Linked DNA regions of Homo sapiens. The protein of the gene in region 1 purifies or fractionates together with the protein of each later gene. This does not show direct contact. Each region holds a gene or a part of one and is shown in the gene's direction. Other genes may lie near its edges.

Evidence for each region.
Region 2: the proteins of GHRL (region 1) and UTP6 purify together in Homo sapiens (affinity purification with mass spectrometry; one large-scale study listed by BioGRID and IntAct). This does not show direct contact.
Region 3: the proteins of GHRL (region 1) and GNPAT purify together in Homo sapiens (affinity purification with mass spectrometry; one large-scale study listed by BioGRID and IntAct). This does not show direct contact.
Region 4: the proteins of GHRL (region 1) and SIRT5 purify together in Homo sapiens (affinity purification with mass spectrometry; one large-scale study listed by BioGRID and IntAct). This does not show direct contact.
Region 5: the proteins of GHRL (region 1) and NECAP2 purify together in Homo sapiens (affinity purification with mass spectrometry; one large-scale study listed by BioGRID and IntAct). This does not show direct contact.

The regions. Positions count from the first base shown.
Region 1 is NC_000003.12:10,290,080-10,296,632, reverse strand, and holds the start of GHRL (appetite-regulating hormone isoform 1 preproprotein), read left to right. Parts: upstream 1-3,685; 5' UTR 3,686-3,719; coding exon of another isoform or gene 3,720-3,791; exon of another isoform or gene 3,792-4,565; intron 4,566-5,181; 5' UTR 5,182-5,917; intron 5,918-6,423; 5' UTR 6,424-6,452; coding exon 6,453-6,553.
Region 2 is NC_000017.11:31,879,721-31,885,652, reverse strand, and holds part of UTP6 (U3 small nucleolar RNA-associated protein 6 homolog), read left to right. Parts: intron 1-1,147; coding exon 1,148-1,229; intron 1,230-4,898; coding exon 4,899-5,080; intron 5,081-5,932. UniProt on the Homo sapiens protein: Part of the small subunit (SSU) processome, first precursor of the small eukaryotic ribosomal subunit.
Region 3 is NC_000001.11:231,265,212-231,270,183, forward strand, and holds part of GNPAT (dihydroxyacetone phosphate acyltransferase), read left to right. Parts: intron 1-81; coding exon 82-209; intron 210-500; coding exon 501-576; intron 577-802; coding exon 803-954; intron 955-1,065; coding exon 1,066-1,196; intron 1,197-2,468; coding exon 2,469-2,692; intron 2,693-4,972. UniProt on the Homo sapiens protein: Dihydroxyacetonephosphate acyltransferase catalyzing the first step in the biosynthesis of plasmalogens, a subset of phospholipids that differ from other glycerolipids by having an alkyl chain attached through a vinyl ether linkage at the sn-1 position of the glycerol backbone, and which unique physical properties have an impact on various aspects of cell signaling and membrane biology.
Region 4 is NC_000006.12:13,594,197-13,600,128, forward strand, and holds part of SIRT5 (NAD-dependent protein deacylase sirtuin-5, mitochondrial), read left to right. Parts: intron 1-1,280; coding exon 1,281-1,368; intron 1,369-2,766; coding exon 2,767-2,820; intron 2,821-3,531; exon of another isoform or gene 3,532-3,668; intron 3,669-4,833; exon of another isoform or gene 4,834-4,835; coding exon 4,836-4,959; exon of another isoform or gene 4,960-5,445; intron 5,446-5,932. UniProt on the Homo sapiens protein: NAD-dependent lysine demalonylase, desuccinylase and deglutarylase that specifically removes malonyl, succinyl and glutaryl groups on target proteins.
Region 5 is NC_000001.11:16,438,230-16,444,727, forward strand, and holds the start of NECAP2 (adaptin ear-binding coat-associated protein 2), read left to right. Parts: upstream 1-2,494; 5' UTR 2,495-2,532; coding exon 2,533-2,624; intron 2,625-2,943; exon of another isoform or gene 2,944-3,069; intron 3,070-5,402; coding exon 5,403-5,503; intron 5,504-6,498. UniProt on the Homo sapiens protein: Involved in endocytosis.

The DNA.
Region 1 (6,553 bases):
GAAGAACAAATATAAGAGTGGCAGCAGGCCAGGCGCCGTGGCTCACGCCTATAATCCCAACACTTTGGAAGGCTGAGGCGGGTGGATCACGAGGTCAGAAGTCCGAGATCAGCCTGACCAAGATGGTGAAACCCCATCCCTACTAAAATTAGCCAGACATGGTGGTAGGTGCCTGTAATCCCAGCTACTCGGGAGGCTGAGGCAGGAGAATTGCTTGAACCCGGGAGGTGGAGGTTGCAGTGAGCCGAAATCACGCCACTGCACCCCAGCCTGGGCGACAGAGCAAGACTCTGTCTCAAAAAAAAAAAAAAAAAAAAAGGAGCAGCAGCCAACTTCTCATCAGAAAGTAGGCAAACCATAAGAAAATTAACATCTTTAAAGTACTGAAAAAATTAAAAAAAAAAAAACCTGTCAGCCTCAAATTCTATACCTAGTGAAAATATATATATATTTTAATACAGACTCTTTCAAATAAAAGCTGAAAGAATTAATCACCAGCAGAGCTGCCATTACAAGAAATGTCAAAGAAGTTTCCTTCAGGCAGAAGGAAAATACTAGATGAAAAACAGGCTGGGCACAGCGGCTCACACCTGTAATCCCAGCACTTTGGGATGCTGAGGCAGCAGGATTGCTTAAGCCCAGGAGTGTGAGGCCAGCCTGACCGACATGGTGAGACCTTGTCTCTACAAAAAAAAATACAAAAATTAGGATTTACAAATACGACTTCAGGCCCAGCGCGGTGGCTCATGCCTGTGATCCCAGCACTTTGGGAGGCCAAGGCAGATGGATCACTTGAGGTCAGGAGTTCAAGACCAGCCTGGCCAACATGGCAAAACCCCATCTCTAGCAAAAATACAAAAATTAGCTGGGTGTGGTGGCGCATGCCTGTAGTCCCAGCTATTCAGGAGGCTGAGGCAGGAGAATTGCTTGAACCCAGGAGGTATGGGTTGCAGTGAGCCAAGATCACGCCACTGCACTCTAACCTGGACAACAGAGCAAGACTCCATCTCAAAAAAAAAAAAAAAAAAAAAAAAAAAACAAATATGACTTCAACATATTGCAAATACCTTCAACAACTCCGATATCCCTTTGCAAATATCCCTTTACAGGCTGAGGTGGGAGGATCAGTTGAGCCCAGAAGGTGGAGGCTGCAGTGAGTTGAGATCACGCCATTGCATTCAACCACAGGTGACACAGTGAGACCCTGTCTCAAATAAAAAAGAAAAGAAAAATGGATCTGCACTAAGGAATAAGGAGCAACACGATAGTAAATACCTGAGTTCATAAGACTTTTTCTTAATTTCTTTAATCTGTCTAAAAACTTTGGCTATTTAACATGCATTGTGGGGCTCATACCTTAAGTAAAAATAAAATGTGTGACAATAATATCACAAAGAATAGAAGTGGGGAAATGAAAGCATTCTGTGGTGCAGTTCTTACACTATCTGTGAAAGGATATCGTAGTTGTTGAAGGTATTCTGCAATATGTTGAAGTCATATTTGTAAATCCTAGAGCAACCACTCAAAGAATAGAACAGTACAGTATAGCTAATAAGCCGACGGTGAAGACAAAATGATACCATTCAAAACCCTCTAAAAGTGGTTATGACAAGAGAAAGAAAAGGAAGAACAGATGGGACAATGGAAAAATTGGTGACTTACAAATAGTCTGGAGATTAACAGTAATGTGCTAACACTGGTGTTTTAATTTTGATAAATGTACTACGGTTATATAAGATATTCACGAGTGGAAACTGAATTGGGTTATTCAGAGAGAAAGATTTCATCTTCCATATGTTTATATTTTCTGCTGGAAGCAAGCATTTATAATCAAAATTTACCTGGGATACTTGGTAATTTATAATCAAAATTACCTGAGATACTTGAAACAGATTCTAAAGCCCCCACGCCAGAGCTACTGGATCAGAATCCAAGGATGGAGTCTTATAAACGTGCATAAAACTTATGAAGCTTTCCTCATGAATCCAACACAACCCAACACAGGTCTGTATCTGGAAATTGAGACGAGATGGCCCTCCAAGCCACGTCCCACCCTGAGGTCGTCCTATGGCTCTTAGCGGTCCATAGACTAAAAGGCTGGATGATCAGCAACGCTGAGACAACAGTTTCAGTACAGCAGTGGGGATGAGAGGCAAGGTCAAGTTTTGAGGGGCCAGGACACAGCAAAGAAGAGGACACAAGGAAAGGGGAAGGAAATGGAGATGGTAACACGAGGGGAGGGTGGGATCGGTGCACAACAGACGTTTTCAGGATTAGGAACCTGGGTGTATTTTAAGGCAGAAAGCAGAAGCCACTGGAGGGGAACAGAAGACACGAGAGAGGCAAAGTGTTAGAGCTTTGGCCCCAAGATGGCCGGAGGCTAGGGAAGCCCCAGTGAGAGAGGCAGAGCTTGGCGAAGAGGAGGGATGAGAGAGCATGGCTAAGGTCAGGGAGGATTTAAGAGCGATGGCCGCCTATCTAGAATGAGCCGCATGTGGCTGCTGAGCATTTGAAACATGGCTAGTCCAAATTGAAATGCACTGTAAGAACACACACTGGATTTCAAAGACTACACATCTGTAATCCCAGCACTTTGGGAGGCAAAGTCAGGCAGATCACTTAAGCCAGGAGTTCAAGACCAGCCTAGGCAACATGTCAAGACTCTGTCTCTACAAAAAATACAAAAATTAACTGGGTGTGGTGGTGTGACCTGTAGTCCCAGCTACTTGGGAGCCTGAGGTGGGAGGATCATCTTAGTCCAGGGAGGTGGAGGCTGCAGTGAGCCATGATAGTGCCACTGCACTCCAGCCTGGGTGACAGAGCAAGAACCTGTCTCAAAAAAATATATATGTATATTCATTTAGACATATGCTGTTGCACACTTAGACTATAGTATGGTATCAGCATACGTTTTATATTTACTGGGAAACCAACAAAATTCGTGTGACTTGCTTCATTGTGGTCTGGGACCAAAGCTGTAATGCCTCCAAGGTATGCCTGTATATTTCTATTGCAAAATGTGAATCTCGAAATTATAAAAGCTACAACTAGGACAAAAAGCAACCCCACCAAATAGCCCTATATCAAAGAATAAAATCTCTTTCTAGAACCCCAGAATTTGCCTCTTTCAGACTGAAGTTTAGCCAAATCTATGAAAAAAGAGCTTGCTAAACCAACTAATTATCAGTACAAATAAAATTATAATGAAAAGTCTATGAAGATAATTTGTTCTCAGATGCCCTTCACATATAGCAATTAATTCACAAATGATGAGTCACTCATGTGCCTTCATGAAGGCAGGCCCTCAAGAGACCCGCAACAGAAAGGAAAGCCACCGACTGGAGAGAACCTGCTTCCTGAGCCCCACCAAGTTCCAAAAAGGAGAATGGGGCTTCGTCCTCACCCTCAAGGAGTTGCCAAACTGGGCTTGGTTATTATTCACACTTGAAAAGAATGAGGAAGGTCAGCCAGTCCCCTCCAGGTCGCTCGGGCTTCCTCCAAGCTCCTCTTGGTTCAAATTTGCTGTGTCCTCCAGCCGGCATCTCTCCTCTGTTCCGTAACTGACAGGGCAGCGAGGTAGCTTCCGGATGACTCCTCCCGCCATGGTTCTTCCGTCCATCAGCTCTTCCTTCCTCAACTCTGTGGTATGTGGCTAGGGGAGTTTCCAACTCCCAGGGGACATTTCAGTTCCCCAAAGATAACACAGCTTTGCACAGTGGATGTTTACTTGCTGGTGGTCTTATCTAAGATCAACATTGGCAGCTGTGCCCGGAGAGGCCTCCAGGGTCCAGGTAAGTGGAGGCTTCATGTCTCAGGAGGTACCTGGTCACCACAGTTAGGATTTTTCTGTTTGGGGATTTTTTTTTTTATGGGTTGGTGGCTCTGAAAAAGCTGCAAGTCTTCTCTGAGGACTACAGACCTCTCTCCACCCTCTCCACATTCAGCCTCTCTGGGCTCCAGGGCCAAAAGATGTCTACACTCAGGTGGCAGACAGGCCTGTGAAGACCTCCTGGTGACATGCTCATATGTTGCTGGGACTAAAGGTGGGATTTTAGCCACCACAGTGGGTTGGTGGTGAGATGTTTACCAACAGGAGGTACTTTGTCCCTCATGTCCACTTAAAGATTCAGTCCAACCCGGCCTGTGCTTCTGCTGTCCCAAGAGACTCTAGAAAGCTCCAATCCTCCCTGAGGTTGATCTTTTAAGTCAGGGTAGGTGGTCATTCGGCAATCAACTGCTCTACTGCCTCAATGTCCTCCTCACTGGACGTCCTGCCCCAATTCCATCCTGTTCAGCGCAGACTGATTTTCCTGGAACACAATGTTCATTATGGAGCCAGATGGCATATCAGAAAGAGCACTGTATTAGGAGTCAAGAGATCCATGGGGGAATCCCAGCATTGCCCCTGATGGCTGTATAGCTTTGGGGAAAGTGAGGCCCTCTTGGCATTCAGTTTTTCTTCCAGCGAAATAAAGGATTCAGCCTCCCAGAGCTTTAAAGTCTTTCCAACTCTTTCATTCATTCTATGGTCTCTCTCTCCTCAAGAATCCTCAGTGGCTGCCCTCCTGCAAAAAAAGCCCAAACTTCTTGGGCTAGCAGTTCCCAAGGCATCCATCACCTGGCCCCAAACCACCTTCTTATGTTTTTGTTATGACCCCATCGCCACCCTCCCCCAAGCCACCCAGCCTTCTCCATGCTGCCCTGATGTACTCTACCCACGCCTTCACCTCCCCTCTGCTTGCCGCAAAGCCCTCCCTCCAAAGCCCTGCCCCGAGTTCACCACAGGCCTCTTTCCTGGAGCCTTTGCTAACATCCCTGCCGCAAGCCCCAGCCTAAGGTGAGCTCCTCTCCTGAACTGCTAGAACTTCTCTGCAGACAACTCATTGGCCCTTAGGGGTTCCTGCCTGGGCACCCAGTTGGATGAAGCACTCCAGAAAGGAAGAAATTCCTGGGGCCGAGGGAAATGAGGCAGTGGCCTTGGCCTATGCTGGGAAGTCCTATGGGCCTGGTATGAAACCATTGTCATCTGCAGGGTGTTTCACAGGTTAGAAGCCACTTTCCCCCCATCGCCTCATTTCACCCTCAAAGACTCTGGGTAAGGGGAATTATTTGTGGTCGGCGTAAGGCCAGTCAATGAGAGAGGAGCCAGGCCCGTGCTAAGCGTAGATCTTCCACCTCCAGGTCCAATGCACTTCCCTCTCAGAAGAGGCATCCGCTAAAATAGGGACCAAAGCTGCTGGAGGGAGGCAAGGCAAGCTGCTATGTGAAAAAACGCCAGGCCAGGCAGTCATGTCACACCTGGCAGAAATGACTGAAGCATAGCCACTGGCTGAAGTTATCCCCACACCCACTCTCTGGAGAGGATGATCAGGAGCAGTCTGCTCAACCGGGAGGTGGGACTCCTCCTCGGGAAGGTGTAGAATCACCAGCCTGGCTCCCTGCGGACTCCCGGGGCTCACAGAGGCCAGAGCAGCAACAGCACATGGGAAACAACGGGGCGCTGGACTGGGGAGGTCTCAGAGCTCTCCTAGTGATGACAGCCTCATTTTACCCAGGGAGAAAGGGCGAGTAAGCTAAGGTCACACAGCAACAAAGCTGCACCCAGACCCCAGAGCCACTCTCCTCCCTCCCTCCTCCACCAGGGCCATGCCCACTTGGGGCACCCCGCCACCGTGTTCCAGGGACAGCTGGAGCACATGCTTCTTCCCTCGCCAACCCAGCAATTCCGCAGGGCATCTGACCTCCACTGTTGACTTCTACCCAGAGGACAAGAACATTTTTAGTTCCCAAGGAATGTACATCAGCCCCACGGAAGCTAGGCCACCTCTGGGATGGGGTTGCTGGTTTAGAACAAACGCCAGTCATCCTATATAAGGACCTGACAGCCACCAGGCACCACCTCCGCCAGGAACTGCAGGTAAGCTCTCTCTACTCTCCGTGTGCGTTTGCTGACAGGTTTATTGTCCGTGACTGCTGCCCGTCCGTTTAACCTCTCTGGGCCTCAGGAGTCCCCTCTAAACACGGGGGATGTCGGACTGTCTGGCTGGAAGACAGAGCTTCATTTAGGAGCTACCTCTAACCCCCTCCCTGCTGAGTGCCCTGGGGCCCTTGCTGGTTCAGCTTCCTCCCTCCTCATGAAAAGACTCGCCATGAGCTCTCAGAGCCTGGGACAAAAGGCACCGGGGAGGACCCCCAGCCCCTATCAAGTCCTGCTGCCAGGTGTTCTGCCCTGAACGGCCTTGGAGAAGAGAACACACATCCATCATCTTCTACCTTGGGAGGTGGAAGCGGGGGTCCTCTCTACACAGCAGTCAGGACCCCAGATGGTAAAGCCCTTCACGCCATCTGCTGGGCTCCTACCTGAGCAAGCTCAGAGGCACATGAGAAGGGGAGGCAGCTGCCTGGAGACCCTCTCTCCCCCAGGCCCACCTGTCTGCAACCCAGCTGAGGCCATGCCCTCCCCAGGGACCGTCTGCAGCCTCCTGCTCCTCGGCATGCTCTGGCTGGACTTGGCCATGGCAGGCTCCAGCTTCCTGAGCCCTGAACACCAGAG
Region 2 (5,932 bases), on another chromosome or scaffold:
CCCTGCCCAGCTAATTTTTGTATTTTTAGTAGAGACGTAGTTTCACTATGTTGGCTAGGCTGGTCTCGTACTCCTGACCTTGTGACCTGCCCGCCTTGGCCTCCCAAAGTGTTGGGATTACAGGCGTGAGCCACCATGCCTGGCATAAGTCTCTTTTTAAAATTTATATTCTACTCCCATTTTTTTCCCTTAAATTTTAATAGGTTTGGGCCGGGTATGGTGGCTCATGCCTGTAATCCCAGCACTTTGGGAGGCCAAGGCAGGTGGATCACCTGAGGTCAGGAGTTTGCGACCAGCCTGGCCCACATGGTGAAACCCCATTTCTACTAAAAATACAAAAATTAGCTGGGTGTGGTGGTGGGCGCCTGTAATCCCAGCTACTTGGGAGGCCGAGGCAGGAGAATTGCTTGAACCCGGGAGGTGGAGGTTGCAGTGAGCTGAGAGCGCCTGGGCAACAGAGCGAGACTTCATCTCAAAAAAATAAAAATGTCAATAGGTTTTTGGGGAACAGGTTTAGTGGTGATGTCTGAGATTTTGGTGCACCCATCAACGAGCAGTGTATACTGTACCCAGCGTGTACTCATTTATCCTTCCATGTTTTTTTTTTGAGACAGGGTCTTACTCTGTCACCCACGCAGGAGTGCAGTGGTACAATTATGGCTCACTGTAGCCTCGACTTCATGGGCTCAGGTGATTCTCCCATTTCAGCCTCCTGAGTAGCTGGGCATGGACCTCTATGCCTGGCTAGTTTTTGTACTTGTAGTAGAGATGAGGTTTCACCATGTTGTCCGGGCTAGTCTTGAACTCCTGAGCTCAAGTGATCCTCCTGCCTTGGCCTCCCAAAGTGATGGCATAACTGGTGTGAGCCATTGCACCAATCCTCAGTAAGTTCTCATGGAGTAATTAAATCGTGGGGAGTTGAAAATTAGTTCTTTTTTTATGAATACTCCAAAGATTAACAATAGCTTTGCTTGAGTAGGGGGACACTGGGGTGAGGGGACTATGGGATGACTTTTCTTCTATTTTATTCTATTTCTCATTTCAAAAAACAAGAAGATTAACTCCAGTACATGAAAAGAATGCTACTTTTAAAGTAAAGTGATTCTTATTGGCAATAAACTTCCCCTCCCCTGCTTTTTAAATTTAGGTGCAGAATTTCACGTGTCACTGCTTTCGATTGCACAGCTATTTGACTTTGCCAAAGATCTACAAAAAGAGATTTATGATGAGTAAGTAAAGTTAGTAGAAAGGTGAATATATCTATTTCTGATCTTGAGATTAAGGGTTTGAGGTTGGATATTTAGTAGAAGAGAAAGAAGATACCACACTAAATCCCTGGAATAAAAGCTAATATTGGCCGGGTGCAGTGGCTCACACCTGTAATCCCAGCACTTTGGGAGACTGAGGTGGGTGGATCACCAGAGGTCAGGAGTTTGAGACCAGCTTGACCAACATGGTGAAACCCCGTCTCTACTAAAAATACAAAATTAGTTGGGCGTGGTAGTGCATGCCTGTAATCCCAGCTACTTGGGAGGCTGAGCCAGGAGACTCGCTTGAACCTGGGAGGCGGAGGTTGCAGTGAGCCAAGATCCCACAATTGCACTCCAGCCTGGGTGACAAGCAAAACTCCATCTCAAAAAAAAAAAAAAATTAATATCATATTACGTTAAAAAAAAATTTCCTGGCCCAGTGTAGTAGCTCACACTTTGGGATCCCAGTACTTTGGGAGGCCAAGGCAGGTGGATCCCTTGAGCTCAGGGGTTTGAGACCACCCTAGGCAACACGGTGAAACCCTGTCTCTACAAAAAATAAGCTAGGTGTGGTGGTGCATGCCTGTGGTCCTACCTACTCTGGAGGCTGAGGTGGGAAGATCACCTGAGTCTGGGAGGTTGAGGCTGGAGTGAACTGTGATCCTGCCACTCCACTCCTGTCTGGGTCACAGAGTGAGACCGTGTCTCAGAAAAAAAGTATCTTCCTGATTGAGTTCTTTGATTCACTTACTGGGGGAAATAGTTTATTCAATAAAAAAAAAAAATCTAGCCAGGCACGGTGGCTTAAGCCTGTAATCCCGGCACTTTGGGAGGCCGAGATGCATGGATCACCTGAGGTCGAGAGTTTGAGACCAGCCTGACCAACATGGAGAAACCACGTTTCTACTAAAAATACAAAATTAGTCGGGCGTGGTGGCGCATACCTGTAATCCCAGCTACTCGGGAGGCTGAGGCAGGAGAATCACTTGAAGCCGGGAGGTGGAGGTTGCAGTGAGCCAAGATTGTGCCATTGCACTCCAGCCTGGGAAACAAGAGCAAAATTCCATCTCAAAAAAAAAAAAAAAATCTAAAGCTTATATAAAATTCTAAATTCTATTTTCCTGGCATTTATCCATAAAATGAGAGTTATACTCATATGTTTATAGTTGAGTGCTGGTAATTTTATTCTTTTTATTTCTTTATTATATTTTTATTTATTTATGTTTTTAATTATAGAGATGAGGTCTCACTATGTTGCCCAGGTTGATCTTGAATTCCTGAGCTCAAGTGATCCTCCTGCCTTAGCCTCCCAAAGTGCAAGGATTACAGGTGTGAGCCATTACACCTGGCTGGTAATTTTATTCTTTAATGTCTGATTATATGGTTTAACAATTATTTGTAAGCTTCGGCAACATGGCGAGACCTGTTTTTACAAAAAATAACAATAAAATTAGTTGGGTATGGTGACATGTGCCTGTAGTCCCAGCTACTTGCGGGGCTGAGGTGGGAGGATCCCTTGAGCCTGTGAGGTTGAGGCTGCCGTGAGCTGTTATTGCATCACTGCACCCCAGCCTGGGTGACAGAGTGAGACCCTGTCTCAAAAAAAGAAAAAAAAAATATTTTTAGCCTACCTTGTGGGTACTTCCGTTTTTTGGTAACACCTCTTCCTTTGACAGGAGGGGAAATGGAACTTGAATCAATCTGTTGTTTGGATATCTTCAGGGTTTTGAGAGAGGAGTAGGTTGTGCTTTTTCTCTATTATTTAGAAAATGAAGAACCCTGGGCTGGGTGTGGTGGCTTACGCCTGTAATCTCAGCACTTCGGGAGGCCGAGGTGGGCGGATCACTTGAGGTCAAGAGATTGAGATCATCCTGGCCAACATGGTGAAACCCCGTCTCTACTAAAAATAGAAAAATCAGCTTGGTGTGATGGCATGCACCTGTAATCCCAGCTACTCAGGAGGCTGAGGCAGGAGAATCGCTTGAACCTGGAAGGTGGAGGTTGCAGTGAGCTGAGATCGTCCCACTGCACTCCATCCTGGTGACAGAGAAGACTCTGTCTCCAAAAAAAAAAAACAGATGCAGTGGCTCATGCCTGTAATCCCAGCACTTGGGAAGGCCGAGGCGGGCGGATCACCTGAGGTCAGGAGTTTGAGACCAGTCTGGCCAACATGGTGAAACCCCGCCTCTACTAAAAATACAAAAATTAGCTGGGTGTGGTGTCACATGCCTGTAATCCCAGGTACTCCGGAGGCTGAGGCAGGAGAATCGCTTGAACCCAGGAGGCGGAGGTTATAGTGAGTTGAGATCGTGCCACTGCACTTCAGCTTGGGCAACAAGAGAGAAACTCTGTCTTAAAACACACACACAAACACACACACACACACAAACGAAAATGAAGAGCTCAGCTATAATAAAGTTCTTTAGGCTGGGCACAGGGGCTGTAATCCCAACACTTTGGGATGGACTATTGCTTGAGCACCCAGGAGTTGGAGACCATCCTGGGCAACATGGCAAAACTCTGTACAATAAAACTACCAAAATTAGCTGGGTATGGTGGCATGCACTTGTAGTACCAGCTACATGGGAGGCTGAGGTGGGAGGATCACCTGAGCCTGGGAGGTGGAGGCTGCAGTGAGCCATGATGGCACCACTGCACTCCAGCCTGGGTGACAGACCCTATCTCAAAAACAAAAAAAAGTTCTTCAGGTCTCTTGGAGTCTTGTGTTGTCACAGATAACTGCTGATTTGACTTTGAGAGCTAACTTGAAAGTTAACATTTGTGAATGATACCTGAAATATTCTGAAACTCAATAAATGTGGGACAGCTCTGGCCAGGTGCAGTGGCTCACACTGTAATCCCACCCAGCACTTTGGGAGCCCAAGGCAGGAGGATCACTTGAGGTCAAGAGTTTGAGACCAGTCTGGCCAACATGGTGAAAACTCATCTCTCCCAAAGAAATACAAAAATTAGCTGGGCGTGGTGGTATGCGTCTGTAATTCCAGCTACTTGGAAGGCTGAGGCAGGAGAATTGCTTGAATCCAGGAGATGGGGGTTGCAGCGAACTGAGATTGTGCCACTGCACTCCAGCCTTGGTGGCAATGAGATTCTGGCTCAAAAAAAAAAAAAAAAAAAGTGAAAAAGTGGGACAATTCTGATCCATTGACAAAATTTCTACAGTTAGTGAACATATTCTGGAGAGCCTGTTGGGAAATATATTTTTTTTTTTTTTGAGACAGAGTCTCGCTCTGTCGCCCATGCTGGAGTGATGCGATCTCGACTCACTGCAACTTCTGCCTCCTGGGTTCAAGCAATTCTCCTGTCTCAGCCTCTCTAGTAGCTGGGACTACAGTCACATGCCATCATGCCTGGCTTATTTTTGTATTTTTAGTAGAGATGGGGTTTCACCATATTGGTCAGGCTGGTCTCGAACTCCCGACCTCAGGTGATCCACCCACCTCAGACTCCCAAAGTGCTGGTCTCCCAGTGGCGTGAGCCACCGGGCCCGGCCTGGGAAATAGTTTTTATGGTACTGCAGTTGTTACAGGGATGTCCTGTGTAGATTTTTTAAGCACAGGTAACTGTTTCTCTGATATTCTGAGTCAGTTTCTTGTTGTGGGATTGATAACAGTAAATTGTATTTTTCAGCCTTCAGGCTCTACACACAGATGATCCTCTCACTTGGGATTATGTGGCAAGGCGAGAATTAGAGATTGAGTCACAGACAGAAGAGCAGCCTACAACGAAACAAGCCAAAGCAGTGGAGGTCGGCCGGAAGGAGGAGAGGTGCTGTGCTGTGTATGAAGAGGCAGTGAAGACTCTGCCAACAGGTGAACTTCACCAAACCATGGTGTGATATAGAAGGAATAGTATCCCTGATTGTGAAACTTAAGCTCCTGTTCCCATTGCCAAAATCAATATTGGGGATGTCTCTGTAACATAGTTTACGATGAGCCTGGCCTTTTTTTTTTTTTTTTATTGGGAGGCAGAGTCTTGTTCTGTCACCCTGGCTGGAGTTCAGTGGCTCGATTTCGGCTCACTGCAACCTCCACCTCCCGGGTTCAAGCAATTCTCCTGCCTCAGCCTCCCAAATAGCTGGGACTACGGGTGCCCGCCACCATGCCCAGCTAATTTTTTTGTATTTTAGTAGAGACGGGGTTTCACTGTGTTGCCCAGACTGGTCTCGAACTCCTGAGCTCAGGCGATCTACTTGCCTTGGTCTCCCAAAGTGCTAGGGTTACAGGATTACAGGCGTGAGCCACCGTGCCTGGGTTTTTTTTGTTTTTTGTTTTTTTTTGAGACAGAGTCTCACTCTGTTGCCCAGGCTGGAGTGCAATGGTGTGATCTCGGCTCACTGCAGCCTCCACCTCCCAGGTTCAAGCGATTGTCCTGCCTCATCCTCCCGAGTAGCTGGGATTACAGGCGTGTGCCACGATGCCTGGCTAATTTTTGTATTTTTAGTACAGACGGAGTTTCACCATGTTGGCCAGGCTGGTCTTGAACTCCTGACCTCAGGTGGTTTGCTCACTTTGGCCTCCTAAAGTGCTGGGATTACACGCATGAGCCACCGCATTTGGCCGTGCCTGGCTTTCTAACTTGGTCTTGGCTTTCTAACTTTTATGACCTTCCTCCATAGTAGTGGTATTTATGTTCATCTATTTTGGGGGAAGCTTAGGAAATAA
Region 3 (4,972 bases), on another chromosome or scaffold:
ATGAAAAATAAGCATGTTTAAGTTTAGATCTTTATAGAAGATTTCAAGATCTGCAAATAAATATTATCCCCTCTTTTTTAGACTTCCTGGGAATGAAAATGGTTGGTGAGCTGCTACGAATGTCGGGTGCCTTTTTCATGCGGCGTACCTTTGGTGGCAATAAACTCTACTGGGCTGTATTCTCTGAATATGTAAAAACTATGTTACGGGTAAATGCAAATAATTCCCAACTACTCTTAAGCCATATTTTCTTCACTGATGTTTGCTCATTTAAACTCTTAACTTCTGAATAGAACACTTAGCTATTTTGCTTTCCCTCAAGAACTGCTTATAACCTCAGCAATTGGTTTAATCTGTGTGACTCTCTTGTTTAATTTTCACTGTAAGCTGTGTTTGTTCAGGAAGCTTGGGAGGGAGCTTGGGAAAAGGAATCAAAAGAAGCATTTATCATTTTGAGAGTAGGCAATGGGTTTTGTGTTTTGTTTGTTTTCTCTTTAAAGAATGGTTATGCTCCTGTTGAATTTTTCCTCGAAGGGACAAGAAGCCGCTCTGCCAAGACATTGACTCCTAAATTTGGTAGGTCACTACAGATTAAAAGGAAAAATACAAACCCAAAGACATCAGCTGCTACATAAAACTTGACGCTTTATTTAACAAGATATTCTTTTCAAGTGTAAATGTATAACTGTTGATATTTACGGGATTAGTGTATAATGTATGCTTTTAGTATTTTCCGTTTATGTGCTCATGTTTGCTCTGCTCTTCAATATGTTGATGAAGCATTTCTCCCTGTGTTTTGCAGGTCTTCTGAATATTGTGATGGAGCCATTTTTTAAAAGAGAAGTTTTTGATACCTACCTTGTCCCAATTAGTATCAGTTATGATAAGATCTTGGAAGAAACTCTTTATGTGTATGAGCTTCTAGGGGTTCCTAAACCAAAAGAGTCTACAACTGTACGTGAGCTTGATTTTAGCTTAATTGAGAGAATGTGCTGACTGACACATCAACTAATTTCTAAATTTACTGCTTTTCGTTTTCTTCCCCCCCTGTTATGGTACTATTAGGGGTTGCTGAAAGCCAGAAAGATTCTCTCTGAAAATTTTGGAAGCATCCATGTGTACTTTGGAGATCCTGTGTCACTTCGATCTTTGGCAGCTGGGAGGATGAGTCGGAGCTCATATAACTTGGTTCCAAGGTGTGACCTGTGTTTTAATAACTGTCTTAGAAATGAGGATTAAAATCCAAAGGTGTGAGTTGCAATGCTGGAGTTGACCACTTCTCTTGATTTACTTAAGATTACAGAGAAAATGATCAGAAATGCTGTTATCATTCCGTTTTCATCAGTGGAAACCTTCAATTAAAGAAGAATTATGTGTTTGTCCCAAAAAAAGATAAGCTGTGAGATATGTATGTCAAATATGCAAAATCAGACAATGATCATGTTTCTCAAGGGAACTAAAGTGGGAATAAATAATGCCATTATTAACAAGTATATGTGCAGGAATTGTTGAGCACTATTGGTAAGCTAGCCAAAGTATGTACTATTATTTTTGACCCTAGAAAGGATTGCATAATGGTAATGAATGGGAGTGAGTCCTTAGTCTCTAGAGAGTTATAGTTTTATAGGCAAGAAAATATATTAGGTTCTTTCAGGATAAAGAACACAGATACACATTTGAGTTTTCTTAATTAGGAGAAATATACCTGGACAAGTAAGGGAGACAAACCATCTGCCCCTCCAGGCCTCATGTGCTGCAACATCATTTGTAACTTATCTGTAGCTTTAGCAGTTTCCCAGCAGCTACATTAGTCATCACAGACGCTTATGTTAGTTTTTTTCCTGACACAGGCTCTCTCTTTAGATCTCAAATTGGTTTGGCTGGCTATTACCTAGTACAGGGCACCCTTACTGGCTGCATCTTTCACATTAAGCCACCTGTGTGGCAATTTTTAGGTCATGTGTGTATCTCTGCTCCAGCCAGCTCTGTGCAGGCCTTATTGTACTATTCAAAGTTTGGTAATCCATGCATGAAGTCAGACAAACTGAATGGCACCCATTCAGTATAAAATAGTTATTATATAATCTGTTAAGTGTGTTCTACAATGGAGATATGTTCAGCGTGCTATGCATTCTGAAAAGATAGTAATTTAGTCTACTGGGGCAGGCATCCATTCTCAGAGAAACGATGTATCCTATTTAGGAAGCAACAAAAGTTTTTTGCCTGGAACCAGGAATAATAGGACCCTGGACCCCTTCAGTATTTTTACCATCTCTCAAGAGGATATTCCAGAAATGTATGGTCAGATTACACTATAGTAAAGCAAAGGAATACTGTTTGCACCTGACCTGAGAGAATTCAGTTGGCACAAAGTATGAGAAGCCTTCTAAAACGTCTAGAGTCTTTTTCCATCCCCATTTGTCTAAGTAACAGAACTGTAATTTGTTGCTCTGTGCTCTTCCTTTTAGATACATTCCTCAGAAACAGTCTGAGGACATGCATGCCTTTGTCACTGAAGTTGCCTACAAAATGGAGCTTCTGCAAATTGAAAACATGGTTTTGAGCCCCTGGACCCTAATAGTTGCTGTTCTGCTTCAGAACCGGCCATCCATGGACTTTGATGCTCTGGTGGAAAAGACTTTATGGCTAAAAGGCTTAACCCAGGCATTTGGAGGGTTTCTCATTTGGCCTGGTATGTAGGTAGGACATATGTGTTGAGAATGCTTGCTTAATTTGGAAGAGTTAAAACCTGGACCTGAAAAATCTATAGAGGACTTGAGCAAAGGATTGCTCAGAAAGAGAAAGGACAGGCCGGGCGCGGTGGTTCACACCTGTAATCCCAGCACTTTGGGAGGCCAAGGCAGGTGGATCACGAGGTCAGGAGATTGAGACCATCCTGGCTAACGCGGTGAAACCCCGTCTCTACTAAAAAATAGAAAAAATTAACCAGGCGTGGTGGTAGGCGCCTGTAGTCCCAGCTACTCGGGAGGCTGAGGCAGGAGAATGGCATGAACCCAGGAGGCGGAGCTTGCAGTGAGCCGAGATTGTGCCACTGCACTCCAGCTAGGCAACAGAGCGAGACTCTGTCTCAAAAAAGAAAGAAAAAGAGAAAGGACACCAAATCTGTTTTTATCACTATAGGACACAGTGAACACAGCACGTTGATTATTTGAGAATAATTGTTTACATGTCATTTCCCACTACGAGACTCTGAATATCTTGAGGACTAGAATACCATTTCCTTGGCACCTAGTACGGTGGAAAATAAAGTCATGAATCCTAGCCAGGCATGGTGGTACACACCTATAATCCCAGCTACTTGGGAGGCTGAGGTGGGAGGATCACTTGAGCCCAGGAGTTCGAGACCAGCCTCAGTAACATAGTGAGACCCCATCTCCAAAAAAAAAAAAAAAAGGCCGGGCGTGGTGGCTCACACCTGTAATCCCAGCACTTTGGGAGGCTGAGGCGGGCGGATCACGAGGTCAGCAGTTCCAGACCAGCCTGACCAACATGGTGAAACTCCGTCTCTACTAAAAACACAAAAATTAGCCGGGCATGGTGGCGTGCACCTGTAATCCCAGCTACTCGGGAGGCTGAGGCAGGAAAATTGCTTGAACCTGGGAGGCAGAGATTGCAGTGAGCCAAGATTGCGCCACTGCACTCCAGCCTGGGTGATAGAGCGAGATTCCGTCTCAAAAAAAAAAAAAAATTGTACAGGCTACAGTTGGAAATGCGTTTTTTTTTAAAGACCAGATAATTATTTGAAGTCAAGTACCTACTGTTCTTTGATCAACCCAATACTGAATACCTCCTCTGTGCTGGGTACTACCAGGGATATGAAGATGAACAAGATGCCATCCCCATCCTGGACGTTCCCCTGGGTTGCAGAGGGCAGGGTGGGTGGGTAATGTGTAAACAAGTTGTGAGGGTTCAGTGAACAGAGACAAGGAGCAACATGCATGCTGCAGAGGGTTCCTGAGAGTGCTGCAGAGGAAAGGGACCATACTCAGGAAGACTTCACAGAAGCGACTTTTGAACCCTTCAGGAAGACCAGGAGAGGATCCTCGCCAAGGCAGGGATGAGGAATGCAAGATGGGAGGCTTGGGCCCCAGAGATTCATCAGTGATATTAAAGTGTTGGCCCAGATGGGGTGGTGGGTAGATGGAAAATAAAGATGGACCTCCCCGCCTCCTCCCCACCATCCACCATCAGAAGACTGGAGGTATAGAAACAAGTTAGGAGGCTGCTCTGTCCCAATGAGAAATGCAGGATGCCTGAGATGCCTGAGCCGCAGCAGTGGAGGCACTCAGGGCACAGCCAAGAGATGAGGAGGATTTACTGACAAAAATGCCAGTCACCAAGAGAGAGACAAATCAGACACCTGTTCTCAGTGCTGTGATGGGCTGGGTCTGGTAGGAGGCAAAGGATGTGTTAATTATGATACAAGTAGCAAGTGTTGGATGTCATGAGAAATAGCTAAAAGGGCTCAAACCCATCATTGTTTGGCCCAGGAACATATGAAAACATAGGTACTTGTTTTTCTAAAGTGTTTTGCTTTTTCAGGATGGGATAAATGCCATAACTAATCCATAACTAAGAGTATCTGTTCAGTGTCACTACAGTTCTGTTCCTTTTTTCTTTTTTTATGCAGATTACCCCACATTCCTAAGCATGTTCATATCTCAAGCTTTTTATGATCATTTCACATAAAATATTATTCAATTGAGCAAGCTGAGACAAGGCAAGTTGTTCAAGAATGAATGTGATCAAGTCCAGGAGGAAGCCATACCTCTCACTTGTCCCTGCCTTGAAGCAGTAGCAGAACTTGCCACCCAACTTGAGCAGTGTGCCACTGCCAGCCAGCTCTTTGGCTCAGGTTAACTGCAGAATAATTTTCCGTGCTGAGAATATTTGTTAAATATCACCATCTCTTCATTATGCTTCTGTAATTCTACCTGCCTGGCAGCTGTCT
Region 4 (5,932 bases), on another chromosome or scaffold:
CCATTTTTCAGTGTTCTCCTTCAACAAGTCTGTGCAAGCATGATGATGATGTTACAGTCTCATCTGGCCAGTAGCAATTGTAGGACACATCTGAATTTCAGAGATGTGAAAATGGGGAAAAATGTCTATGCTAAAACTGACAAAGTAGGTTTATTGGCTCACAAAACTGAGGAGCCTAGTGGTGCAGCTTATGTCATCTTTCCTCCCGGCCCCTGTCCCCCTCCTTCTTTCAGCTTTGCTCACTCTTTGAGGTGGCCTCCCTTCTCTCTCTGCAATTGATCTGTCTCCACGCGCCAAGGGAGAGTGCCTCCGACGGCTCCAGCTCAGCCACCTGCTCAGAAAATAAACCTCTGGGTAGGCTTGCTTGGTCCACACGCCCACCCTTCTGACCAAACACGACTGCAGAGGGATGGACACCACATGGGGGCCGTGCGCAGCATGTGGCTGAGCTTGTATTTGGGATGTGACCCACAGCCCTATTGGCTCAGCATGCGAGAGAGCAGGGATGGTGCTCCCCAAGGAAGGACTGGTGGGCAGGACGGAGCAGCGCATGTCCACTAGGGTTGAAAGTGCTCTGCACGGCACCAGTTGCCTGGTACCCATTTCATAAACTGTGGCCACCATGATTGCTTCAGCTCAATAAGTGGTGGTTAGTATTAACAATTACTTTTTTCACTTATTAGTTGATTACTTATTTATTGAGGTGCTTTTGTATAAAAGATTCAAGCTTTCTGAAATCGAAGTTAAAATTTTGTAAACATATCCCACGCCATTGAACCTTTGTCAGTCATGTCAATAAATCACGCCCTTAGATTTAGGTTGAGCTCCCTCTACCCTATTGGCAACTTCTGCCCACTTGAACACCACTCCAAGGTCATCTGATGGCACATTAGTCATGGAGTTATTTATTTTTCCTCCAGATTATAAAGTCCTTGAGGGCATATGCTCTTGACTGGCTTAAGAGTACTGCATGCCTCTGTTTCCCATGAAAGCTAAAGCTAGGGTAGGCCCATTTGCTAAAATGAAGTATGGCTCAGTGTGGCGGTGCACACCTATAGTCCCAGCTGCTCAGGAGGCAAAGGTGGGAGGATCGCTTGAGCCCATGAGTTGGAAGCTGCAGTGAGCTATGATCGTACTGCTACACTCCAGCCTGGGTAACTGGGTGAGACCAAAACATGAAATGAAGTGTGAAAAATAAAGTATCTTATACCCTTTTAGACATGGAGAAGGTTGCTCTTGATTATACTAAATTCTGGATTTGCTTCATATGTATTTTTCAGGTAGCTTATTTAAAACTCGATGTACCTCTTGTGGAGTTGTGGCTGAGAATTACAAGAGTCCAATTTGTCCAGCTTTATCAGGAAAAGGGTAATTATACCACACTACAGAATAAGTATAGGTTGTTTTCTCCTTTAGGTTGAACATAAATGTGAGGAAATTGAACATTCATCAAAGATTCCCATGGATATTTATGAGAAATAAGACTAAATACAAGGCTGGGTGCAGTGGCTCATGCCTGTAATCCCAGCACTTTGGGGTTACAAGGTGGGGAGACTGCTTGAGTTCAGGAGTTCAAGACCAGCCTGGGCAACACAGTGAGAAACCTGTCCTACAAAAAAACAAAACAAAACAAAAAACCACAAAAATTAGCTGGGTGTGGTGGCACATGCCTGTAGTCCCAGCTACTAGGGAGGCTGAGGTGGGAGGGTTATTTGAGCCTGGGAAGTCAAGGCTGCAGTGAGCTGAGATCATGCCACTGCACTACAGCCTGGGTGACAGAGGGAGACCCTGTCTCAAAAAACAAACAAACAAACAAAAAAACTAAATATAGCCATGTGATAAAAGAAATATTTTGCTCACAACTTACAGTGTTAAGTGAAAACCACAGGGTCCTAAATTTGTACACACAATGAGTTCGTGTATCTGTATATAGTTAAAAGACCAGAAGAAAATACAACAAAATGTTAATAAGGAATATCAGGAGTGGAGGGATTATGGGTAATTTTTAATTTCTTCTTTATATCTTTCTGAATTTTCCTATATTTCTATTATGAACATGTACTATTATTACAATGAGGAAAAAATTTGAGGGTAGACACAATATTGAGAAAAATTCCACTCAGCCTTTTAAAAACAGTATAAATTGTATAAGGACTATATAATGTCATTGCAGAGGATACAAATGATGATGATGATGATGTATAAAGGTAAACATGAAGTTCCCCCTTGGCACACCCAGCCACTCCAGCCCTCCCCACACATGCATTCCCTCACTGGCAGTACAACCACTGGTGATTTTTTTTTTTCTGAGACAGGTTCTTGCTCTGTTTCCCAGGCTGGAGTACAGTGGCACAATCACACCTTACTGCAGCCTCCAACTCCTGGGCTCGAGCAATCCTCCTGCCTCAGCCTCCCAAGTAGCTAGGACTATAGGCACACATCACCACACTCAGCTAATTTTTGTATTTCTGGTAGAAATGCAGTCTTACTGTATTGCCGAGGGTTGTCTTGAACTTCTGGCCTCAAGCAGTCCTCCCACTTTGGCCTCACCAAATGCTGGGATTACAGGCATGAGCCACTGTGCCCAGCACCACTGGTAATTAATGGCTTGGGGTCCTTCCTTCTAATGCCCTTCCAAGTGAGCATGTATTAATTAGGAGTTTTATACCACATACTGCCAGGCAAATATACAAACTGAGTTATGTTGTTTCTTTATTTTTTATTATGCCAATAACAATCTTTCTTTTCTAATATTATTTACTTCAGTGCTCCAGAACCTGGAACTCAAGATGCCAGCATCCCAGTTGAGAAACTTCCCCGGTAGGTAGAAAACTCTGATTTGTACTGGTGTTCCAGGTTACCAAAACAAAAAAAAAAACAGACATCAAAACCTAAACATGTATTTGGCAAGACGCCTCTTAAATCAAATGCACAAATGTAAAAACCAGGCTTGATCTCTGAGACCAAAAGTGAAAGGACAAAGGATGAACCAAATTAGGATGAAAAGAATGATTTTTTTCCAACCTCTTTTTGCTTTGTGTTGTGGTAGGATCATTTGAGGTCGGGAAAGTTTCTGAAGCTGTCGTGCGACAGGTGGTTACCCAGTGTACAGAAAGCATAGGGGCTGACCTGTAACTGGTCAAATAACATCACTGGCATTATTAATCCAGGGTTAGGGAGGCAATGAAAGGACCTGAATAGGAGAGGTTACAGGACCAAACAGAATGTTCATAGATTAAAAAAAAAAAAAAAAAAAAGGAAGATTTTTATGCCAATTTTTCAAAACCAGGCATTAAAACAGCACTTCTATAACCTGTAATTGGATTAGAAGTTTTTTTGTTGTGTTTATTTTATTTTATTTTTTTTTGAGATGGAATCTCACTCTGTCACCCAGGCTGGAGTGCAATGGTACGATCTTGGCTCACTGCAACCTCCACCTCCTGGGTTGAAGTGATTCTTCTGCCTCAGCCTCCCGAGTAGCTGGGATTATAGGCGCCCGCCACCACGCCTGGCTATTTTTTGTGTTTTTAGCAGGGATGAGGTTTCGCCATGTTGGCCAGGCTGGTCTCGAGCTCTTGACCTCAGATGATCCACCCGCCTCAGCCTCCCAACATGCTGGGATTACAGGCGTGAACCACTGCACCCGGCTGGATTAGAGTGTTTTTAAGGTAAAATAAAACAGCACTTCTAAAAGTGTTTCATAGAACATTAATTTAATGTTACGTTGAGACATTACTTGAAAAAAACATGTTAGGCACTCAAATAAATATGGAAATGTTAGACTAAACAAAGTTAAAATATGTTTGCTTTACTGCAGGACTTTTTAGAGCATTTAATCCACATTGCTGCCTTCTAAAAAGTGGTTGTAATACGTATGTTAATGCTTTACTGGCTTATTTAACCACAGAACCTTTTAAATTTTCCTCATGAGGGTTTTAATTGCTAAATATTAAAAGTTTTCTTCTGAAGGAATAGGTAGACCTGGAGGATTCCTGTGATGCAGGAGATTACTATGATGAAAATGGTGTTTGGGGGATGGTTTTAGGAGGTGTATAGAAGGTAACCCTGAGGTAGGAGGGAGTGAAAGAAGAGAGATTTTTAGTAATGGACACAGGAAAGCTGGCTACATACTGGGCCAGAGAGACATGAACCTGAGAGAACATGAAAGGAGGTCATTGATGAAATTAGGGGATGCTTGGGGTGGGAGGCAAATCTGAGTCCAGTATGTCTCCCAGGTCTGGGTGGCTGTGAGCACAAATGTGAGCATAATGAATGAACTGGGAAAGCTTAGCTGAAACAATGTGTCAGCACATCAAGTACATACAGACAAGATAAAAAATAAGGACAGTTCTGCAGGGCGCGGTGGCTCATGCCTGTAATCCCAGCACTTTGGGAGGCCGAGGAGGGCAGATCACCTGAGGTCAGCAGTTTGAGACCAGCCCGGCGAATGTGGTGAAACATGTCTCTACTAAGAATACGAAAATTAGCTGGGTGTGGTCACACATGACTGTAGTCCCAGCTGCTCGGGAGGCTGAGGCAGAATTGCTTGAACCTGGGAGGCAGAGGTTGCAGTGAGCGGAGACCATGGCATTGCACTTCCGCCTGGGCAGCAGAGTGAGACTCCGTCTCAAAAAAAAAAAAAAAAAAAAAGACCATTAAACCTGATGCTTCATAAGCAAGGCAAGTTTATATAGGCTGGGAGGGAGGGTGTAGGGAATAAGAGGCATCAGAGGTGACCCATCTGGATGTACTAGGTTTGGGGCAGCCCCTGGCCTCCCTCCGATCCAGCTGGGCAGACTTGGCTCGGGGTTGGCTTAAGGATCCCATTCTTCCAGGTGTGAAGAGGCAGGCTGCGGGGGCTTGCTGCGACCTCACGTCGTGTGGTTTGGAGAAAACCTGGATCCTGCCATTCTGGAGGAGGTTGACAGAGAGCTCGCCCACTGTGATTTATGTCTAGTGGTGGGTCATGCCCTTCCCTAACCCCAGGACAGGACTGGAGTTTGTTATTTTTTCCTTCCCCCTCTCCTCTTTTCCTTCCTCCCTCCCTTGCTTCTTTCCTTCCCGCCTTCTCTCCTCCCTCCATTTCTTCCTTTCCTTCAAATGTATGTTGAGAGGTCTTTGTGGTATCCTATAGAAAAACTGAGAAACAATGAATAAGAATTTGTATTAAAATAGGAAACCATGCATGTCTTGGGCATCTCAAAGCCTCCTCCCCCAGCCCCACCAAAAACAAAGAAAAGAACATGCTATTGGTTTTTTAAATAATACATGCTTATGATTAAATTTAATTGAGAACATGCAAAAATTATCACATTATAAAGAGGAAATTAGAAATCGCCCATAGTTCTGCTATCCAGAAATAGTTACCGTTAGCAGTTTAGTATGTTTTCTTCTAGACCCAGGAGTGAGCAAACAGCAGCCTTTGGGCCACATTGGGCCTGCTACCTGTTTTTGGAAATAAAGTTTTATTGGAACTCAGCCACACTCATTCTTCCACACACTGTCTATGACTACTTTCAAACTACAAGTGGCAGAGTTGAGTACTTGTGACAGAGATTGAATGGCCTGCAAAGCCTGAAAAATTTACTGTATGGTCATTTTCAGAATAAGTTTGCCCACCTCTGGTCTAAACCTTTTCTTATGCAGATGTACACGTATTAATTAAAATTCAAAACTGAGTTCATGACATATGTTCTGTTTTGAAACTACTTTGTTCACGCAGCAGTTCACTTAGCATGTTCCATATCAATATGTCTAAATCAATATCATCTTTCAATTGACTGTATGGTGTTATATATGGATAAGGAATGATATATTTAGCTAATTCTCTACTGTAAGACATTTGGGCTATTTCAAATTTTGATAGTTTAATCAATGATATCGTGAATATCCTTAGATAGAAATCTTAGCATGCTCTTCAAATGATTTCCTT
Region 5 (6,498 bases), on another chromosome or scaffold:
GCCTGTAGGCCCAGCTACTCAAAAGGTTGAGGCAGGAGGATCCCTTGAGCCCGGGAATTTGAGGCTGCAGTGAGTGATGATCGCACCATTGCACTCCAGTGTGGGGTGACAGAGAGAGAAAGAAAGAGAGAGACCCTGTCTAAAAAAAAAAAAAAAAAGAAAAGAAAAAGAAAAGAAAAGAAAAGAAAAATAACCAATATTTGCAAAAATGTGAAGAAATTGAAACCCTTGTGAACGTAAATGGTGCTGCTGCTGTGGAAGACAGTTTGGAGGCTCCTCAAAAAGGTGAGCAAGGCCGGACATGGTGGTTCACACCTGTAGTCCCAGCTACTTGGGAGGCTGAGTTGGGAGGATCACTTGAGCCTGGGAGGTTGAGGCTGCAGTGAGCCATGATCATGCCAGTGCTTTCCAGCCTGGGCAACAGAGTGAGATGCTGTTTCAAACAAAACAAAACAAAACAAAACCACTAAACATAGCATTATTGTATAACTCAGCAGTTTCACTCCTATGTATACACTCAAGAAAATGGAAAACAGGACTAGAACAAGTGTTTGAACACCAATGCTCATAGTAGCCCGATTCCCAATACCAAAAGGTGATAACATCCCAATTGTTGACAGATGAATGGATAAACAAAATATGGTATATACATGCAATGGAATATTATCCCTCCATTAAAAGGAATGAAATTCTGATCCATGCTACATGAAAGAACCTTGAAAACTTGATGCTAAGTGAAATAAGAAACACAAAAGCCCAATATTGTATGATTCCACTTATAAGAGGTATCTAGAAAAGGCAAATTCATAGAGACAGAAAGTAAAACAGAGGTTACTAAGGGATGGAGCAGAAGGAAATGGGAAGTTATTGCTAATGGGTGTGGAGTTTCTGTTTGGGATGATGAAAAGTTCTGGAAAGCATGATATAGTTGCACAATATTGTGAATGTACTTAATTTCACAGCATTGTACACTTAAAATGGTAAATTTTATGTTATGTATATTTTACAATAAAAATGTAAGTGGTTAGATCAATCCTATAATAAAAAGCTTATAAAAAATGAGTAGAAATGGCCAGTCGTGGTGGCTCACGCCTGTAATCCCAGCACTTGGGAGGCCGAAGTGGGCGGATCACTTGAGGTCAGGAGTTCAAGATCAGCTTGGCCAACCAGATGAAACCCCCGTCTCTACCAAAAAAATACAAAAACTAGCCAGGCTTGGTGGTGGGTGCCTGTAATCCCAGCTACTCGGGAGGCTGAGGCAGGAGAATCGCTTGAACCCGGGAGGTGGAGGTTGCAGTGAGCCGAGATTGCACCACTGCACTCCAGCCTGGGCGGCAGAGTGAGACTTTGTCTGAAGAAAAAAAAAAAAAAAAGTAAAAAGGAGAAGGAGAGTGAGAGAGAAAAGGAAAGAAGGGGTGGGGAAAGTTTGGGGTATTCAGTGAATCAGAAGTTTGGGATCAGCTTCACCCCCACATAGGGGCTGGCACATTGCAGGCACTCAACTCAATGAGAGAATGGTAGGGAAGGAGGGATTTTGAGAATTTGGCTAGGGTAGACATTGTATCTCCCAGAATATTCTGGGAGAAATCGAAGTTAAGACTGGAATTCTTCTTCTTCTTTTTTTTTTTTTTTGAGACAGAGTCCCGCTCTGTCACCCAGGCTGAGGTGCAGTGGCACAATTTCAGCTCACTGCAACTTCCGCATTCCGGGTTCAAGCGATTCTAGTGCCTCAGTCTCCCAACTAGCTAGGACTACAGACACACGCCACCAAGCCCGGCTAATTTTTGTATTTTTAGTAGAGACGGGGTTTCACCATGTTGGCCAGGCTGGTCTCGAACTCCTGACCTCAGGTGATCCGCCCGCCTCAGCCTCCCAAAGTGCTGGGATTACAGGCGTGAGCTACCAAGCCCGGCCTGGAATTCTTCTTAAATTACTTGTGTTACTAAACTTTACTTCTTTGAATACAACTCGTTGTTGAGGTTTGGCCACACGGGGCCCTGAGCATATAAGTGGGTTCCCCTAGGGGAAGCATGGAGGGTGGTAGGGTAATGGCATCTATTTAGTCTGGTGGGTCAGGTGCCAGCTGAGCCTTACAGTCAGGAGAGGGAAGGATATTCAGGCAGAGGAGGCGCCGAGGCAAAGGCTGGAGGACAGAGATACTGCAGGGTGGGCTACAGCTTTGCCTCTCGGTCAACTGGGCCCCAGGCCTAAGAAACTGAAGCGATGGGGATGATCCACACCCAGACCACGGGTTACAGAGGGGTCTGTCCATGGCGGGCGCAGGGCGCTTTCTTTGCGTCGGAGGGTGTCTGGAGGGAAGGAGAAGCCTCTGGAGGGAGGGAGAAGCCTCCGGAGGTCGCCCGCCACGTGTCTTGAGCCGGGTTTCCAGCAGAGGGCGCACAAACGAGGCGGTGCTGAGGCCCGCGAGCTGCCGCTCTAGCCGAAACCTGGTCAGAGAGTCGCACCGCTTCCGTCCGTCGGACAGAGGAACGGTGGAAGTCGCCGGAAGTTCGGTGGGCTCCAGGCGTCGCGATGGAGGAGAGCGGGTACGAGTCGGTGCTCTGTGTCAAGCCTGACGTCCACGTCTACCGCATCCCTCCGCGGGCTACCAACCGTGGCTACAGGTGACTACCCACCGCCAGACCAGGCTAGCTCCAATTTAACCCTTTCTCCGCCACCCGGACACACCCACTGCGGGAACCGAGGACAGCCCTGGCCAGTTTTGGGGCGAGGGGGAGCTAATGCTGCTGCTTCTTCCAGTTCCAGGCCCGAGCAGGGAGGTGGATCCAGAGTTTCGCCCGTCTCAGTTCGACGCACGGGACTCCTGGCGGCGGGGAGGGCGTTAAAGCCGTATCTAGCGCTTAGGGACCCCGGTGGGCTGCCGGGTACCCTAAACTTGGTCGGGGGTGGTGATGTCACAGACGCTTCTCTTTCAGCGCTAACCGGTGGCCTTGAAGGGATCCTCGAAAAGCCTTAAGCGGGGAGGTGCCCTATCACAGACGGAAATCCCCGAGAGGAGGGGAGGGAGCCCAGAGCCGGCTGAAAGGACCGGTCCCGGGGAGCTTTAAGGTGACGGTCGAAGCCCAGGGACCCCTTCCTACCCAGATCCCTTCGCACGAATTTCACCCTTGATCACAGCCTGGAGCAGTTGGGAGGACCCCTTCTATATTTCTCTGGTCTCTACCTGAGACGAATAAACACACACGCTTGTAAACATACTGAGTATCTCTGCAAAGGAACACAGGAAACTGCCCTAGGGGAGGGGAACCGCCCTTGGAAGGAAACTTCCTTTCCCTTTTGTGCTGTTTGCGTTTTACTACTCTTTGTATGCGTTATCTATCAAAACGACGAAAAATATTAAAAGAAAAAAGATACACTTCATACAGACAACCTGGCCTATGGCTATTTTGTGCCACTGAGTGGTGGTGGGGAGTGCTCGTATTTGCGGGGGCCTGGGTGGCTCTTGAAGGCGATGGTTGTCCAAGTTTTTCGGAAATACAGGATTGGTCTGCACCCCAAGAATGATGGAACGTCCACATTTCCTCTTGTTACTTTCCAGTTGTGTTACCGTGGGCTCATAGCTGATCTTATGGTGAAAAGATGCGTTAGTGAACATTACATTCATGACATATTTTAAAATAGTATAAAAACAAAAACAACAATAACCAAAATACATTTGTTTTCTGTCATCAAACTGTGGTTGGACCATCAAACCATTGATGGTCGTCTAGCCCCATCTCCTGTTGGGTCTTTTTTTTTTTTTTTTGAGACAGAGTTTCCCTCTTGTTGTCCAGGCTAGAGTGCAATGGTGCGATCTCGGCTCACTGCAACCTCCGCCTCCCGGATTCAAGCGATTCTCCTGCCTCAGCCTCCCGAGTAGCTGGGATTACAGCCATACACCACCACACCCGACTAATTTTGTGTTTTTAGTAGAGATGAGATTTCTCCATGTTGGTCAGGCTGGTCTCGAACTCCCTACCTCAGGTGGTCCACTCGCCTCGGCCTCCCAAAGTGCTGGGATTACAGGCAGGATCCACCGCGCCCGGCCCCCTATTGGGTCTTTAGTAGGATGGATTTGGTTCCTCTTGGTGCCCCAGAGAGCGAGGTTATGAATTGTCAGGGCTGGCTGGTTTAGCTTAGAGGAAACTACCAGTGCCTGCACTTAAGTCTTGGAGCTCTCCTTAGCCTGAATCTCAGGCCTGGTAAGAGGAACAGGAACTGAGTCTGCTGATTTGTGAATTGAGAATCTGCATTTGTGCAGCCCTCAAGACAGCCGCGTCCAGGGTTCTTGAGAACTGGCATAGGGACTTCTAAGAAAAGCCTCCTGGAAACACCTGCGGTTCTTGCTATTTGGGGATTTAACTGACCTTTTCTTAGAACTAAAATGTGAAGTTAATGCTTTAAAAGAGTCAAAACAGCTGGCTGTGGTGGCTCACGCCTGTAATCCCAACACTTTGGGAAGCCTCGGTGGAAGGATCCCTTGAGCCCAAGACTTCAGGACCAGCCTGGGCAACATAGACCCTATCTCTATAATTTTTTTTAATTGGCCTGGTGTGTTGGTACACACCTGTAGTCCCAGCTACTCAGGAGGCTGAGGTGGGAGGATCTCTTGAGCTCAGGAGGTTGAGGCTTCAGTGAGCCGTAGTTGCGCCACTGCACTTCAGCCCGGGTGACAGAGTGAGACCCCGTCTCAAACAAATTAGAGCCAAAAGAGGCATTGCTGTAGGTTCATGGTTTCCTGGGTTTCTTCCTAAGGACCCATTCACTTTTCTCACATGTACTGTTGTTCTCCTTTTCTCTTCTGGTGATTGTTCCATGCTGTCTTTTTCTTTCAAGATAGTCTCACTGGTCTCAAATGGTCGCTCTGACTGCTGCAGTCAAGCAGTGTCAGAAACAGAATCAGGCCCCTGCAGCTGCTGCTTCTATAGAAAGGAAACTGGAAGGAAGTCCTACGTGGAGGAGGACACTGTGGTCTAGAGAGGGGGTCACCAAGTGACAACCCAGTGTGTTTTTGTATGGTTCACACCTAAGAATAGTTTTTACATTTTTTAAATGGTTTGGAAAATTTTTAAAGGAGAGTATTTCATACTGGGAACATTACATGAATTTCAGATTTCAGTGTCTACACTTTGATTGAAATACAGCTGTGCTCAGTAGAAAATAGTTAAGATACCTAAAGCATCACCACGTGCATGTTCTATACTGATTTTACCCTACAGCAGCCGAGCTGCCTTGTTGTGACAGGCTGTGTGGCCTGTAGAGCCAAAGATATTTACTGTCTGACTCTTTACAGAAAATGTTTGCCAACTCTTGGGCTAGAATAAGCAGCCCTTTCCATTCCCAGCATTGGGGTCACACAGCAGGAGCCTCTGGCAGAGATTCAGTGGTGTTTGTCCCCTTAGGGCTGCGGAGTGGCAGCTGGACCAGCCATCATGGAGTGGCCGGCTGAGGATCACTGCAAAGGGACAGATGGCCTACATCAAGCTGGAGGACAGGACGTCAGGTAACCGGAAGGGAGGCTGCATCAAGCTGAGGGGCCGCACCCCACTTTATGAAGGGAGAGGTGGCCTGGTCTGGCCAGGCTGCTCAGGGGTCATGGGAACCTGTCCTGAAAAATCAGAGACGTGTGTGTACCTTTAAGCTGTACCATTCCCCCACCTTAGTTGTAGAAAGTACCGTCTCCAGGTGTAAAAATGAGTATTTCATGTCAAACACTAGTTCCTTTTAGGAGTCCTCAGGAAAATGTGGGGGCCAAGGAGAGGAGACCGCAGCTTGGTCCTGGTAGGAAGTAGGAAGCCCTGGAAGTGGCCTTGAAGACAGGCGGGTGAGGATGCACAGCCCTCTGCCGCTGGGCTCTGCTTCCTACTGAGGAATTGTTTATCAATGCAGCGGTAACTCCCAGAGCTGACCACACCCATTAACCGAAGAAGCTGGAAACTGTCCTACTCAGCTCTTTCTGTAGTGAGAGGACGAGCTGAGCTGGGTTGTGTTGGGGTCAGCTGGCAGAGATCGTCTTGGGGGAAACTTCACAAGTCCTGGGCCACCTGTGCCTCTGGGTGAGCTGTGGAGGGCAGTGCACCTGGAATCCCCCAGCCGAGACCCCTAGTGGGGTCGGACACAGTGTCTGCTCAGTCAGGTGCCACAACATTCGGTCATTTATTTTTTCTAATATGTAGAGATTTTCCTTTGTAGAGCAGAAGAGAAAGTGCAAAAGTTTAGAGAGAGAACTGGCTGCCTCTTCTCAGAACTATGTTCTGCCTGAGCTGCTGGATGTGGGGTGAGCCACATGACCTCTGGGGCCTTGGCCTCCTCCTTGTTGAAATGGGGATCATATTAGTTCCTCCTTCATAAGATTGTTGGAGAATAGGAAGTGAGCAGATATTTCTGTAATGCTTTACGGACTGCGAGGCAACCCAAAGCATTGATGTGTTCTTCGGGAACTTGGGTACTGGCGGCAGAGGAGTTTGGAGAGGCAGCTGCCATGGCCAGACCAGAGAC